2 separate regions of the Homo sapiens genome follow, and region 2 is linked to region 1. The links come from fine-mapping of genetic effects on gene expression. A gene starts in region 1. The other region holds a variant in brackets. All regions are shown on one strand. Distances are from middle to middle. Region 1 holds the start of COLEC11 (collectin subfamily member 11). Region 2 overlaps COLEC11 (collectin subfamily member 11).

Region 1 (8,329 bases):
GGCTGGCCAGGCGGGGGGCTGATCCCCCCACCTCCCTCCCGGACGGGGCGGCTGGTCGGGCGGGGGGCTGACCCCCCCCACCTCCCTCCCGGACGGGGCGGCTGGCCGGGCGGGGGGCTGACCCCCCCACCTCCCTCCCGGACGGGGCGGCTGGCCGGGCAGAGGGGCTCCTCACTTCCCAGTAGGGGCGGCCGGGCAGAGGCGCCCCTCACCTCCCGGACGGGGCGGCTGGCCAGGCGGGGGGCTGACCCCCCCCACCTCCCTCCCGGACGGGGCGGCTGGCCAGGTGGGGGGCTGACCCCCCACCTCCCTCCCGGATGGGGCGGCTGGCCAGGCGGGGGGCTGACCCCCCCACCTCCCTCCCGGACGGGGCGGCTGGCCGAGCGGGGGGCTGATCCCCCCACCTCCCTCCCGGACTGGGCGGCTGGCCGGGCGGGGGGCTGACCCCCCCACCTCCCTCCCGGACGGGGCGGCTGGCCGGGCGGGGGGCTGATCCCCCCACCTCCCTCCCGGACTGGGCGGCTGGCCGGGCGGGGGGCTGACCCCCCCACCTCCCTCCCGGACGGGGCGGCTGGCTGGGCAGAGGGGTCCTCACTTCCCAGTAGGGGCGGCGGGGCAGAGGCGCCCCTCACCTCCCGGACGGGGCGGCCGGCCGGGCGGGGGGCTGACCCCCCCACCTCCCTCCCGGACGGGGCGGCTGGCCGGGCAGGGGGCTGACCCCCCCTCCCCCCTCCCGGACGGGGCGGCTGGCCGGGCAGAGGGGCTCCTCACTTCCCAGTAGGGGCGGCCGGGCAGAGGCGCCCCTCACCTCCCGGACTGGGCGGCTGGCCGGGCGGGGGGCTGACCCCCCCACCTCCCTCCTGGACGGGGCGACTGGCCAGGCAGAGGGGCTCCTCACTTCCCAGTAGGGGCGGCCGGGCAGAGGAGCCCCTCACCTCCCGGATGGGGCGGCTGGCCGGGCGGGGGGCTGACCCCCCCCACCTCCCTCCCGGACGGGGTGGCTGCCGGGCGGAGACGCTCCTCACTTCCCAGACGGGGTGGCTGCCGGACGGAGGGGCTCCTCACTTCTCAGACGGGGCGGTTGCCAGGCAGAGGGTTTCCTCACTTCTCAGACGGGGCGGCCGGGCAGAGACGCTCCTCACCTCCCAGATAGGGTTGCGGCCAGCAGAGGCGCTCCTCACATCCCAGACAGGGCGGCGGGGCAGAGGTGCTCCCCACATCTCAGACGATGGGCGGCCGGGCAGAGACGCTCCTCACTTCCTAGATGGGAAGGCGGCGGGGAAGAGGCGCTCCTCGCTTCCTAGATGGGATGGCGGCCGGGCAGAGACGCTCCTCACTTTCCAGACTGGGCAGCCAGGCAGAGAGGCTCCTCATATCCCAGACGATGGGTGGCCAAGCAGAGACGCTCCTCACTTCCCAGACGGGGTGGCGGCTGGGCAGAGGCTGCAATCTCGGCACTTTGGGGGGCCAAGGCAGGCGGCTGGGAGGTGGAGGCTGTAGCGAGCCGAGATCACGCCACTGCACTCCAGCCTGGGCACCACTGAGCACTGAGTGAACGAGACTCCGTCCGCAATCCCGGCACCCCGGGAGGCCGAGGCTGGCGGATCACTCGCGGCTAGGAGCTGGAGACCAGCCCGGCCAACACAGCAAAACCCCGTCTCCACCAAAAAAAAAAACGAAAACCAGTGAGGCGTGGCGGCGTGCGCCTGCAATCGCAGGCACTCAGCAGGCTGAGGCAGGAGAATCAGGCAGGGAGGCTGCAGTGAGCCGAGATGGCAGCAGCACCGTCCAGCCTTGGCTCGGCATCAGAGGGAGACCGTGGAAGGAGACCATGGAGGGAGACGGAGACGGGGACGGGGACGGGGACGGGGACGGGGACGGGGACGGGGACGGAGACGGAGACGGAGACGGAGACGGAGAGCTGATTCCTCCTATTTTATTCTTTTTCAAAATTGTTTTAGCTATTCTAGTTCCTTTCTCTTTTCATATACACTTTAGAATAGCCGTGTCTATATCTACAAAAATTATTGTTATGATTTTGATAGAAATTGTGTTAAGCTTGTACTGTATATTAACTTGGGGGAGAATCAACATTTTTACTCTGTTGAGTCTCCCAATCTATACTTTTTAATTTTCATTTTATTATTTTTGAAACAGGGTCCCACTCTGTCACCCAGGCTGGGGTGCAGTGGTGCGATCTCAGCTAACTGCAACATCCACCTCCCGGGCTCAAGTGATCCTTCCACCTCAGCCTCCTGAGTAGCTGGGACCATTCTACTATGCCCGGCTAATTTTTGTATTGTTTTTGTTAGAGACAGGGTTTCACCATGTTGCCCAAGCTGGTCTTGAACTCTTGGACTCAAGTGATCCTCCCACTTCAGCCCTGCAAAATGCTGGGATTACAGGCATGAGCCACTGTGCTTGGGGTGAGTCTCCTAATCTATGAAGACGACGTGTTTCTCTGTTTATTCAGATCTTTTTTGAGGTTTTCAGCAGCATTTTGTAGTTTTCAGCATGTAAGTTCTATATATGTTTTGTTAGATTTACACCTAAGTATTCCTTTTTTAAAGCAATTGTAAATGATATTATTTTGAATTTTGGTGTCTATGAGTTCATTGTTATTTTATAGAAATCTGCTTGGTTTTTCATTGTTTATTATTTTTTTGAGACAGAGTCTCGCTCTGTCACCCAGGCTGGAGTGCAATGGCACAACCTCAACTCACTGCACCCTCTGCCTCCCGGAGTCAAGTGATTCTCCTGCGTCAGCCTCCCGAGTAGCTGGGATTGCAGGCATGTACCACCATGCCTGGCTGATTTTTGTATTTTTAGTAGAGATGGGGTTTTGCCTTGTTGGCCAGGCTGGTCTCTAACTCCTGACCTCAGGTGATCCTCCCACCTTGGCCTCCCGAAGTGCTGGGATTACAGGTGTGAGCCACCACGCCTGGCCTACTTGGTTTTTTAAATGTTTGCCTTGTATCCTGTCACCTGTCACACTGATTTAATAGTTTCCAGGAGCTCTTTTGTAGACTCTGGGATTTTCTAAGTAGACAACCATGTCATCTGCAACAAGGGACAGAGTTATTTTATTTTTCGAATCTACATGCTGTTTATTTCCTTTTCGGGCCCTGCTGGTGTGCCTAGAACTTTAGCACTGCATTGAGTAAGAGGTAAGAGTGGACACCCTTGCCTTGTCTTGATCTCAGGAAGGAAACATTCCATTTTTGCCCATGAAGTATGATGTTAGCTGTGGCTTTGCCTTTGACAGATGCTCTTTATCAAGTTGAGGAAGGTCCCCTGCACCTATTTTTCTGAGAGTTTTTATCATGAAAGGTGTTGGTTTATGCCAAATGCTGTTTCTATATAAATTGAGATATTCATTTGATTTTCTTTGTTAGCTTGTTAATGGGTTTTTATCAAAGGAGCTTTGAATATTGACATAGCCTCACATTCCTGGATGAAACCCCATTTGGTCATAGTTGATAAATCTTTTTCTATATTGCTGAATTCTGTCTGTTAATATTTTATTAAGGATTTTCTCATCTATATTCATGAGGGTTATTGGTCTATAGTGTTTTTGTTCTGTCTTTGTCTGGTTTTGGTATCAGGGTAATAATCAACTTTATAAAATGAATTGGTAAATATTCCCTCCTCTTCTATTTTCTGGAAGAGGATGTGTAGAATTGGTGTTAATTTTTCTTTAAACGTTTTGTAGACCCTCCTGTGAAACCATCTGGCCCTGAAATGTCTTTCTGGGGAGCGTTTAAATTGCAAGTTCAATTCCCTTCCTTGGCATAGGGCTGTTGAATTATCTGTTTCATGCTGGGCATGTTGTAGTTCGTGTTTTCAAGAAGTGGTTCATTTTGTCTAAGTTGTCAAATTTATGTATAACTTCAATAATACGTTTTAAATAAAGAATCCATTATTTTTCCTTAATTTTATTATGTGTGTGGAATTTGTGTTTTTACAGTTTTATTTTATGATTTCTCAGTCTAAATAAATATTCACCTTTGAACCTAGCTTCTTATGATTGTAATTTTATATGTATCTTTTTCTTAAAGAAGGTTCCGCTATCCCCCAAAACATGCAAGATTCGGGCTGCATAGAAGCTGGATCTGTCCAGCCCCTGACTAACATTTGTTTCTGGCATTAAATGAAACTTGCCTTTAAATGAAACTTAAATGCGTAGAGTGAGTTTCCGGACTCACGTGTGGCCAGGTCTCCACAGGCCGTGGTCAAGCTCTTGCTGACTTTTGAAGCGAAATCCCATATGAACAAAGGAAAGGAGATCAGTCAGCTGCCCTCGTTTCTGTCTGATTGGTGCCAGGTGATGAGCGTCCCTCCTCTTTATGCTCTTTTGAATTTCCACAGTAGTCATGCTTATTTTTTCAAAAAACGAAAAGAAAGAAGAGAAAGCCAAAAAAGAAACAAAATTGGGATGTTCGGGTTGGAGAGTTAGCAGGGGCATCTCCAGGAGGGTCCTGCCCCCCACCCCAAAGCCGGCCTCAGGGAGTTCCAGGCGTTCCCACACTCCCCAGGCAGGACGGTGGACGCAGCGCAGACAGGAAGCTCCCCGAGATAACGCTGCGGCCGGGCGGCCTGATTTGCTGGGCTGTCTGATGGCCCGGGCCGAGGCTTCTCCCTGCGCCTGGGACTGCGGCCGCCTCTCTAAATAGCAGCCATGAGGCGCCTGGGGGCAGTGTCCTCGCGGGCCAGCGACGGGCAGGACGCCCCGTTCGCCTAGCGCGTGCTCAGGTAGGAGACTCTGCCCGGGGCTGCAGCTGAGGGTTTCACGGGGCTATGACAGTGCAGAGGGGAGGCAGGCAGGCTTCCAAACTGGGCGCGAGGTGGGCTCCTGCTGAGCGAGGAGGATGGGAATCTGTCCCTAGATCCAGGCAAAAGATTGAGTCTCAATAAATCTGGCACCAGAGTTCCAAAGTTTGATTAGTTCATGGCGGAAATTCGTGGAGCCTATTGATGAGATGGGATCCGACCCATGAGAGGTGCTGGATGATGGAGTCACCCTCTTGGGTGGCAGATTTCAAACAGCCCAAGGCCCAGGGGGCTAAACAGTCTTCGCTAATTCCAAACCGCAGTGCAGTACCTGGTCTCACAACCTGACGATTGTTCCTGAGCCTGAGCAGCGTCTGACGGGCCAGGCGGACAGCAGCCACGACTGCCCCCAGGGACCAGTGGCTCTGTGTTGGGCTCAGGAACGGGGATCAGAGAGGTGGGGGAAAGGTGGGCCTTGCTTTGGCAACTTTCCAGGGAAAGACTTTGAGTTCAGATGGGGTCATCTAAAACCAAGTGGGGTCATCTTGTCTCCAAAATTGGAAAGGAGGAAAGTTTCCTAGGGCCGCTGCCTCCTACCTGGATGCCTTGCGCTAGGAACTGGCGGTCTTTTTAGAGCTGAGGTGATGTGGTCGTTCTCAATTTAAAGATGAACGTTTAAAGCCATCTCATGTGCATAGCTGGAATTTTGGTTTGATGGGAAGCACTTTGCCTGTGGTAGGCAGAGCACTGCCCCAATCTTTCACAGCTATTCGATTTTGTTTACAATTTTGAAAAATCCATGTACCGTAGAAGAGAGCACACCGGTAATGTGCTGACCGCTGGGGGAAGATAAGAGAGGATAGGTGCCTTCTTACTCTGTGCTCTTGGTAAGAAGCTAAGAGGAGCGTGTGCTGTTGTGGGTGGAATCCAGGCTGCCCCAGAAGGTGCTCTGTCACTGTAGGGAGGGAAACACCGCGGTGGGGCTGGGGCAGTCCCCAGTGAGAGGAACCTCCTCATGCTTCAGGGATGTGGTTCTTAGGAGGTATTTGTGGTGCCTGTAAGATGCTGGGCCTTGCTGTAGATACTTAATGAAAAAGTAGAATAGCATGTTTGGCAACTGAAGCCATGATTTTTTCTCATTGTCTATTTCATTTTTTTTTTTTTTTTTGAGATGGACTCTGGCTCTGTCACCCAGGCTGGAGTGCAATGGCACCGTCTTGGCTCACTGCAACCTCCGCCTCCCAGGTTCAAGCGATTATCCTGCCTCAGCTTCCTGAGTAGCTGGGATTACAGGTGTGCATCATGGCACCTGGCTAATTTTTGTACTTTTTAGTGGAGAGGGGGGTTTCACCATGTTGGCCAGGCTGCTCTCGAACTCCTAACCAGGTGATCTGCCCACCTTGGCCTCCCAAAATGCTAGGATTATAGGCATGAGCCACTGGGCCTGGCCCCATTGTTTATTTCATTCATAACATGTATTTCCTCTCAGGATTCCACGTTTAACCCCCTCTCCCCTGCTTGTCAAGTCTGCCCCTTCCATTGATGGGAGGGCCCTGAGCGTCTTGGGCCCTGGCTGGGAGATAAGGATGTTGTTCTTAAAGAGGTCCTGGGGGTAGCTGTGGCTTCTCCGTTTACAAAATGGAATTCCTCTTCTAAGAAGGCAGTCAGAGGGCGAGACCTCTGGGAAGCAGAGACTCCTTCGGGCGCCTGGGTGCCCTCACCCTGTGCCTACCTGCCCTGGTTCCTGCTGTGCGTCTGAGAGCGCCCCGCTGCAGGGCCTGTGCCTCCTTTGTGCCCATAGGCCTAGCTGGGGCCCCTCGCAGGAAAGTGGACAGAAACTCTGTGAATGGGCAGCGGGGTCAGTGAATGAGTGGAGCGAGTGAAGGCATGAGAAATCCCAGCCTGGGCTGTTCCGGGGATCAGTGGATGAGTGAAGTGAGGGAAGGCACAAGAAATCCCAGCCTGTGCTGCTCCGGGGTCAGTGAATGAATGGAGTGAAGGCACAAGAAATCCCGGCCTGGGCTGCTCCGGGGTCAGTGAATGAATGGAGTGAAGGCACGAGAAATCCCAGCCTGGGCTGCTCCGGGATCAGCAGATGAGTGTGAGTGAAGGCACGAGAAATCCCACCTGGGCTGCTCTGGTGTCAGTGAATGAATGGAGTGAAGGCATGAGAAATCCCACCTGGGCTGCTCCGGGGTCAGCGGATGAATGGAGTGAAGGCACGAGAAATCCCGCCTGGGCTGCTCTGGGATCAGCAGATGAGTGTGAGTGAAGGCACGAGAAATCCTGCCTGGGCTGCTCTGGGTTTCTCTGCTCACTACTCACCCCTTTTCTTGGGAGACGGAGCCTGATCTTTGTTGAAGCCACTCCTGGGACATCTGCGGAGTGAGGGCAGTAAAAGCCTTGCTGAACACCTGGTTATACCTGAACAGAATCACTTCTAGCTAGAGGGGAAATTCCCATGTCAGCCTTTGATTCCTGAGACATTAAAAAAAAAAAAAACTAAACCCAGTTTGCATCCAGCAAACACTGAGAAGTGAGGTTCGACTTGCGTACTGAGTGGGTGGGGAGGAAGAGTTTACTATTGCTTTCAGAAGCCACATACCACAAGGAGCCAAAATACTGCTGCTGAGGCAGGAGCCGGGGAGACTACGGTTATGAGCCCAGTGGACCAGCACGTCTGGCTACAAACCTTGTGGTGCCCCTTGTTTTGACATTATTTTTGTATTTTTTATTTTTATTTTATTTTATTTATTTCATTTTTTTGAGACTGAGTCTCACTCTTATCACTCAGGCTAGAGGGCAGTGGTGTGATCTCGACTCACTGCAACCTCCACCTCCCGGGTTCAAGCGATTCTCCTGCCTCAGCCTCCCGAGTCACTGGAATTCCAGGCACCCGCCACCATGCCCAGCTAATTTTTGTATTTTTAGTAGAGACAGGGTTTCACCATGTTGGCCAGGCTGGTCTCGAACTCCTGACCTCAGGTGATCCACCCACCTCGGCCTCCCAAAGTGGTGGGATTACAAACGTGAGCCACTGTGCTTGGCCCATTTCAACATTATTAGGAATTTCAGGACAATGACAGCAGGGCAGTAACCCACGTCTGCAGACTGCCTGCCCTGGAAATACTGTGTAGACATTAGATATAATAAAGATTTGGAAACACGGAAACACCACGAGGAGAAGAGCAGAAGGCTCTATTTGCGATGCAATTGTGAACTTTCGTTCTGTTGTTTGTTCCTTTATTTACTCATTCACTTGTTCACTCAGTTTGGTGCCTGCTAAACTGCAGGCTTCTGCGTGCCCAGAGACCTTTACGAAGCTGTAGCTTGCACAGATCACTTGCATGTGGACCCAAGCCTGGCAGCGAACAAGGAAGGTGGGAGGAGTGAAGTCAGCTGGTGGGGTCCTGGGTTTCCGCTTTTCGGTTGCCCTTATTGTTCTAATATCCGCGTGAGCACAGGGGAGAAGGGTGTGGGCACAGGCAGCGGGTGAGGGGTGTGGAGAGGAGGCTGGAGGCGGACCGTGGGTGAGGGGTGTGGAGAGGAGGCTGGAGGC
Region 2 (8,329 bases), 28 kb after region 1:
TATGGTTTTACATGAATTTTAGGATTTTTTTTTCCATTTCTCTGAAAAGTGCCTTTGGAATTTTGATAGAGATTGCACTGAATCTGTAGATTGCATTGGGTAGTATGGACATTTTGAAATATTAATTCTTTTGATCCACGAACAGATATTTTTTCCATTTATTTGTGTCTTCAATGTTTCATAGTTCTCAGTGTACAGGTACACAACACTTCCTTGGTTAAATTTATTCCTAAATATGTCATTCTGTTTGGTGCTACAGTCAAGGAGATTGTTTCCTTAATTTTTTTCAGGTGGCTCATTGTTAGTGTATAGAAATGCTGCTGATTTTCGTGTGTTGATTTTGTATCCTGCAACTTTACTGAATTTGTTTATTAGTGCTAACCAGTTTTTAGTGGAGTCTTTAGGGTTTTATTTATATAAGATTATGCCATCTGCAAACAGAGCCAGCTTTACCTCTCCCTTTCCAATTTGGATGGATCCCTCCCTCCTTCTTTCCCGCCTCCCTCCCTCCCTCTCCCTTTCTCTTCCTTTCTTTCTCTCTTTCCTTTTCTTTCCTTTCCCCTTTCCTTTTCTCTCCTTTCCACTTTCCTTTTTTCTTTCTTGCCTAATTGTTCTGGCTAGGACTTCCAGCACTATATTGAATACAAGAGGCGAGAATGGGCATCCTTGCCTTGTTTCTGATTTTAGAGTAAAGCTTTCAGCTTTTCACCAGTGAGTATGATGTTAGCTGTGGACTTCTCATACATGGCCTTTATTGTGTTGAGGTGCATTCTTTGTATATGTGCTTTCTTGAGAGCTTTTATCATGAAACAACACTGAGTTTTGTCAAACGTTCTTTCAGCATCTACTGATGATAATATGATGTTTATTCTTCATTCTGTTAATGTGGCATATCACATTTATTGATTTCTGTATGTTGAACCATCCCAGGCATAAATTTTGCTTGATCATGGTGTATAATACTTTTGTTTTTGAGACGGAGTCTTGCTCTGTTGCCCAGGCTGGAGTGCAATGGCATGATCTCGGCTCACTGCAACCTCCGCCTCCTGAGTTCAACCGATTCTCCTGCCTCAGCCGCCCAAGTAGCTGGGATTACAGGCACGCACCACCACGCTCAGCAAATTTTTGTATTTTTAGTAGAGATGAGGTTTCACCATGTTGGCCAGGCTGGTCTTGAAATCCTGACCTCAGGTGATCCACCTGCCTTGGCCTCCCAAAGTGCTGGGATTACAAGCATGAGCCACCGCTCCCGGCCGTGTATAATCTTTTTAATGTGCTGTTAAATTTGGTTTGCTAGCATTGTGTTGAAGATTTTTGCATCTGTGTTCATCAGGGATATTGGCCTGTAATCTTTTTTTCTTGTATTGTTCTTGTCTGGCTTTGGTATCAGGGTAATGCTGGCTTTTAAAAATTAGTTCAGAAGTATTCTCTCCTCTTCAATTTTTTGTAAGATTTTAGAAGGATTGGTATTAATTCCTATTTAAATTTTTGGTAAAGTTTGGCATGAGGCTACCAGGTCCTGGGCCTTTCTTCGATTGGAGATTTTTGACTACAGAATCAGTCTCATTACAGATCTGTTCAAATTTAGTATTTTTTCATTATTCAGTCTTTGTGGGTTGTATGTTTCTAGGAATTTATCCATTTCTTCTAGGTTATTCAAATTTTTGATGTATAATTATTCGTATTACTCTCTTATGACCCTTCATATTTCTGTGGTATCAGTTGTAATTTCTCCATTGCATTTCTGATTTTATTTGAGTTACCTCTTTTTTCTTCGTCTAGCTAAAGGTTCGTCAATTTTTTTTTTTGCCTTTTCAAAAAGCAACTCTTAGTTTTGTCGCTTTGCTACAGCTTTTCTAGTCTCTCTTTGATTATTTCTGCTCTGATCTTCGTTATTTCCTTACTTCTGCTAACTTTGGGCTTCATTTGCTTGTTTTTTTCTAGTCCCTTATGGTGTAAAGTTAGATTGTTTATTTGTAATCTTTATTTTCCCTCCATGTAGGTATTTATTGTTATAAAATTTCCTCTTAGAATATCTTTTTGCTGTAGCCCATAAGTTTTTGTATGTTGTGTTTTCATTTTCATTTGTTTCAAGATATTTTTTGATTTCTTTTTTGACTCATGGATTGTTCAGGAATGTGTTGTTTAATTTTCTCGTATTTGTGAATTTTCGTTTTCCTCCTCTTGCTGATTCCTAGTTTTATCCTGTTGTGGTTAGAAGAGACGCTTGATATGATTTCAGTCTCCTTGAATTTGTTAAGACTTGTTTTGTGGCCTAACGTATGAGCTATCTCAAAGAATGTTCCGTGTGCACTGGAGAGGAATGTGTTTTCTGCTGCTGTTGGATGGAATGTTCTCTGTTAGCTCCATTCGGTCTAAAGTGTAGTTTATGTACAATGTTTTCTTACTGATTTTCTGTCTGGGTGATCTTTCCATTGTTGAAAGTGAGGTATTGAAGTCCCCTACTATTAGTGTATTCTATCTGTTTGCCCTTCAGATCTGTTAATATTTGCTTTACATATTTAGGTGCTCCAATGTTGAATGTGTGTATATTTGTAATGATTATGTTTTCTTGATGAATTGACCTTTTATCATTATATAAAAACCCTTTTTTACTCTTGGCTACAGTTTTTGACATAGTCTATTTTGTCTGATATAAAATAAATATAGCTACGCCTATTCTGTTTTGGTTTCAATTTGTGTGGAATATCTTTTTCCATCCCTTCATTTTTAGTCTATGTGTGATCTTAAAGCTGAAGTGTGTCTTTTGTAGGCAGTGTATATAGTTGGGTCTTCTTTTTATTTATTTATTTTTATTAAGCTACTCCGTGTCTTTTGATTGGATAATTTAATCTATTTACATTTAAAGTAATTATTGATAGTTAAGGATTTGCCATTGCCATTTTGTTAATTGTTTTCTGGTCACTTGGTAGATCCTTTGTTTCCTTCTTCCTCTCTTGCTGTTTTCCTTTGTGGTTTGATAATTTTCTGTAGTAGTATGCATTGATTCCTTTTTCTTTCTTTTGTGTATGTACTAGGTTTTTTATTTGTGGTTACCACAAGGCTTATATAAAACATTTTATAGTTATAACAGTCTATGCTAAACTAATAACAACTTAACTTTGATCACACACAAAATTCTACACTTTTACACCCACCCCCCATTTTATGTTTTTGATATCACAATTTACATCTTTTTTATTGTACATCTATTAACAAATCATTGGGCCAGGTGCAGTGGCTCACACCTGTAATCCTGGCACTTTGGGAGGCTGAGGCGGGTGGATCACGAGGTCAGGAGTTCAAGACCAGCCTGGCCAGCATGGTGAAACCTCGTCTCTACTAAAAATACAAAAATTAGCCGGGTGCTCGCCTGTAGTCCTAGCTACTCAGGAGGCTGAGGCAGGAGAATCGCTTGAACCCGGGAGGTGGAGCTTGCAGTGAGCTGAGATTGTGCCACCGCGCTCCAGCCTGGGCGACAGAATGAGACTCCATCTCAAAAAAAAAAAAAAAAAGTAAAATATATTAGCTGGGTGGTATGTGCCTGTAGTCTCGGCTGAGGCAGGAGGATTGTTTGAGCCCAGGATCTGGAGGCTGCAGTGAGCTATGATGATGTCACTGCACTCCAGCCTGGGTGAGAGAGTGAAACCCTGTCTCTAAAAACAAACAAACAACAACAACAAATTATTGTGGCTATAGTTATTTTAATATCTTTGTCTTTTAACCTTTATACTAGAGTTATATATGATTTACACATAACCATTACACCATCAGAGTATTCTGAATTTGACTATTGCTATCATTTGAATGTTTGCCCCCTCCAAAACTCACGTTGAAACTTGATCTTTAATGTAATAGTATTGAGAGAGTGGGCCTTTAGGAGGTGACTGGATCATGAGTTCTCTGACATTATGAATGGATTGATCCATTTATGAGTTAATAGATTAATGGGTTATTACAGGAGTGGGTTAGTTATCATGAGAGTGGGACTATTATAAAAGCCAGGTGGCCTCTCTCGTGGGCCTCCTTACTGTGTGATGCCCTGTGCTACCTCAAGACTCTGTGGAGAGTTCTCATCAGATGTGGCCTCTTGACCTTGGATTTCCCAGCCTCTAGAACTGTAAAAAAGAATTTCTTTTCTTTATAAATTACCCAGTCACAGATATTCAGTAATGGCAACAGAAAACAGACTAAGGCAAGTATATAGTTTTATCAGTTATCTCTACACTTTTAAATGTTTTCATGTTACTAATTAGCATCCTTTTGTTTCAGCTTGAAGAACTTTCCTTTACATTTCTTGTAAGGGAAGTCTAGTGGGAACTTCTTTAGCTTTTGTGTATCTGGGAGACTCTTAATGTTTCCTTTATTTTTGAAGGATGGCTTTGTGAGTACATAATCTTATTGCCAGTTTTTTTCTTTCAGTACTTTGAATATATGATCCCACTTTCTCCTGGCCTGCAAGTTTTCTGCTGAGAAGTCTGCTGATAGCCTTATGAGGGTTCTCTTGGATGTGATGAGTTTCTTTTCTCTTTCTGCTTTCAAAATTCTCTTCTCGTCTTTGATTTATGGTAGTTTGATTATAATGTATCTTGGTGAAGTTTTCTGTGGGTTGAACCTATTTGGAGACTTTAAGCTTCATGTACCTTGATGTCCACATCACTCCCAAGTTTGGAAAGTTTTTTAGGCATTAATTCTTTAAATAAGCTTTCTATTAGCTTCTCTCTATATTCTCCTAATACAACTTCCATAATGTGAATGTTAGCTTTCTTGATGGTGTCCTTTAGATCTCACAGGCTTTCTTAATTTCTTTTAATGCCTTTTTTCTTTTCTCTTCTCTGATTGAATATTTTTAAATGACCTGTCATCAAGCTCACATATTCTTTCTTTTCTTTTGTTTGATCAATTCTGCTCTTGATGCTGTCTGCTGTATTTTAAATTTTATTCATTCTGTTCTTCAGCTTTAGAGTTTCTGTTTGGTTCTTTTTTTAAAAAAAAATCTCTATCTCTTCATTGAATTCCTCATTTTTAATGTATTGTTTTTCTGATTTTGTTGAGTTGTGTGTCTATGTTCTCTTGTATCTCATTGAGCTTCCTTAAAATGATTATTTTGAGTTCTTTGTTA[G/C]GCAATTTGTAGATCTCCATTTCTTTGGGATTGGTTTACTAGAGTATTATTGTGTTCCTTTGGTAATGTCATGTTTCCTTGATACTTTATATTCCTTGAAGTCTTGCATTGCTGTTTTCTCATTTGCAAAAGCAGTCACCTCCTCTAGTCTTTATGGACTTTTTTTGGGAGAGAGATTTCTTTACAAAACAGCCTGGCTAGGGATTCTGAGGCTCTCTCAGACCATTTCTGTGGATGCACCTGCTCCACACCTTTTGCTTCTCTTGGAGAGGGGTGAATTTTTAAAGAGTATATGCCTTTTCTTGATCCCACAAAGGCAGTCTAGGTGCTACTAGCCTCTCATTAGTTTCCCCTAGGGCAGTGCTCTGAAATGCTCAAGTTCTTGTGCCTTCTCCCTCCCCATCCCACACAGTCAAGCTATCTGTCTGTGTGAGATGCTGGCACTTGCCATCTGTGGGGGTGCCTTTGGGGAGCTGGCAGAGTGTTGGGTGAAGCATGTGAGCATTTGGGTGCCCGTGGTCCAGTTGGGATGGTTCACAGGAAAGGCGTCTCCATCAGCTTGTTGGGGGGCTTCCTAATAAAATCTGCAGAGCAATTATTAGGGTCCATAGCCTTTCTTCCTAGCTCCCAGTCTCTCCCAACTTCTCCTCCATGTCAGTCACCTCAGTATTGGAGGTGAGACAAGAAAGAAGCAGACTTTTTTTGGGCAGCATCCTGCATGGCTGGGGGAGCTGGAAGCTCACTTACTACACTTTCACTTACTCCAGTGGGAAAAAACATGGGCCAAGGGGGTTTCCCTGGGCACTGAGCTGTGTTGCTCAGCTCACAGTTGCTCAGCTTACAGTTGTGGGAAACGGTCACACGGGTAAAGTGAAACTGTTCTTACCCTCATCAGTGCATCTATTCTTGGATTTTTTTCTCTAACAGTGTGCTGGAACTTCTCCACTGGACTTCCAGACTCCTACAAAGACACTTTTGTTCATGGGGAGTTGTCAACATGGAAGCTTCTTTGGGGGGACTATGGTAGAAAGCTCCTCTTCTGCCATCCTCCTAACATCACCCATGTGTGCATGTCTTGTCTTCCTAATTAGATTATACATTCCTCAAGGGTAGGGATTTGTGGATCACACTCTGCCATCCTGCGAGTAAGTGGTTCCAAGTCCCTGATATAGTAGTTATTCCTAAGTATTAGATTGATAGATTTACAGAGGGTCATTAAACATACATTGACTACCCCAGAGATATGGGGTTAAAGTCTGATAGACTCTTTTCATTTCTACCTCTTAAAGAATCTTAATCAAAGGATCCACAAACACAATGGTTTGCTGATCCAAGGCGGCAAGGATTCTCTATTAAAACCTCTGAGGAATTCCCTTCTCCCTCCCTCCTTTCTTCCTTCCTTCTCCCACTTAGAAGTGGCAGCAGGCTTTTTCAGGCTCCGAGGCCTGTCCCCACTGATGTTCAGGTGTAGGTCAGGCTTCCATGCTCAAGCAGGCCTCAGGTCCCTGCTGAGGGGTGGGCACGGATGGAGGGTGAGCCTGAGGCAGGATGTGCAGGACAGCGACTGCTGAGACAGCGTTCTTGGCTGCCTTGTGGTGGGTGGGGGGCCATGGACCCAGCCCAGGGCGGGGGTTAGGGAAGGCACTCGGGAGGCTACTCGTAATTCAGGGTTTCTGAAATCTGGAGACAGGGAGGGCTAGGAGTCCATAAAGGGATGTGGCATTTGGCATCCCAGGGAGTCAGCTTAGGGGAGGGGCGTTTAGCACTCAGGGGTCTACTCTGTGCCTCAGCTTGGACCCATGAGTTTGGAAAGTTTCTTTTCTTCTTTTTTACTTTTTTTTTTTTTTTTTTTGAGACAGAGTCTCACTCTCGCTCTGTTGTCAAGGCTGGAGTACAGTGGCATAATCTTGGCTCACTACAACCTCTGCCTCCCGGGTTCAAGTGATTCTCCTGCCTCAGCCTCCTGAGTATCTGGGATTACAGGCGCCCACCACCACGCCCGGCTAATTTTTGTATTTTTAGTGGAGACGGGGTTTCACCACATTGGCCACACTGGTCTTGAACTCCTGACCTCAAGAGATCCGCCTACCTTGGCCTCCCAAAGTGCCGGGATTATAGGCATGAGCCGCCATACCTGGCAGACTTTGCAAAGTTATTTAACATCTCTATTATCTGAGTTGTCAGGCAGGGATAGTCATAACATTGTATTTACTTTTTCCAGCAGTCACAGCCAGTCGTGACAGCTTCTGACATCTCCAAAAGGAAGTGCACCTCGTCCTTTGTAGAAATGGGATCACAGGGTAATGGATCTGGAAATCCCACCTTCACACTTAAGTTGGACCCTGAGATGCAGAGAATAGGCAACCACTCTTCCCATGGCCACATGGCTTGGACAGAACTGGAGCAGAAGCCCCATTTCTAGATGGACGTGGTTTGCTGGGAGGGAGGAATATTGTTAGGCACAATGCGGTCCCAGCCTCAGCTGAGCAGTGCAGAGACCACAGACGTGGAACCAGACAGTCCTGGGCTCGCTGGGCCTGTCTGTATCGTGGCTCCACCACCTGTCAGTTATGTCAGCTTCTGGAATCAGCTTCGTCTTCCCAAGCCCCCTTTTTCTGTACCTGTAAAATGGGGGGTGGGGGGTGGGGATCTACCTCCCATGACTCCCAGAAGGGTTAAATGGAAGGATAGACGCACAATGTCTTGGATGCGGCAGTTGCCTGGTGCCTGGTGGCCTGGTGGTTGCTGTTATTATTCTCCGTTTGCACAGAAGAAAGTCTGAGCCCTGGTGCTTTTGTTCATGGGAACTCACTAGGGAATGAGCATGACTTCCGGCCTCTGCAATAACCAACTGACATTCTTTCTGATAATCGTGGCTGTTTCCGTCAGCTGTAAGTGCTCTGTTCTGGATAATGTTTATTCTCAAGGACATTAGGTCAAAGAGAGAATGGAATATGTTTACAAGGACATTAGGTCAAAGAGAGAATGGAATAAACTTAGGACTTTTTATACACAACCTGGGATGAATCTCCTCCCTGAGACCTAGGACACCCTGGGCGCTCTGCCTGTGTGGTAGGCGGTGCCCGGGCCCCAGGGGGCGCAGATGGGCTGGGAACCAGGACCTCAGCCGCCACCACCCTCCACACCCTCCCTGGAGTCTCACTTTCCAGTGGGACACAGCCCTGCCAACTCCCCTGGCCCACTGGC

What was found. PIP is the estimated chance that this variant, and not a neighbour inherited with it, causes the effect.
Region 2: its variant is fine-mapped to the expression of COLEC11 in tibial nerve (GTEx, PIP 0.91).

Annotation. Positions count from the first base shown.
Region 1 is chr2:3,590,417-3,598,745 of GRCh38, forward strand. COLEC11 (collectin subfamily member 11) reads left to right here and starts at 4,696. Exons shown (of 7, transcript NM_024027.5): 1 at 4,696-4,752.
Region 2 is chr2:3,618,671-3,626,999 of GRCh38, forward strand. All of the region lies in intron 3 of COLEC11 (collectin subfamily member 11), which reads left to right. Among named protein-coding and RNA genes, the nearest start is that of COLEC11, 28 kb to the left of the region's middle. RefSeq lists a silencer at 3,349-3,498 and enhancers at 5,734-5,953, 5,984-6,223. The variant G/C (reference allele first, on the strand shown) is at 5,123.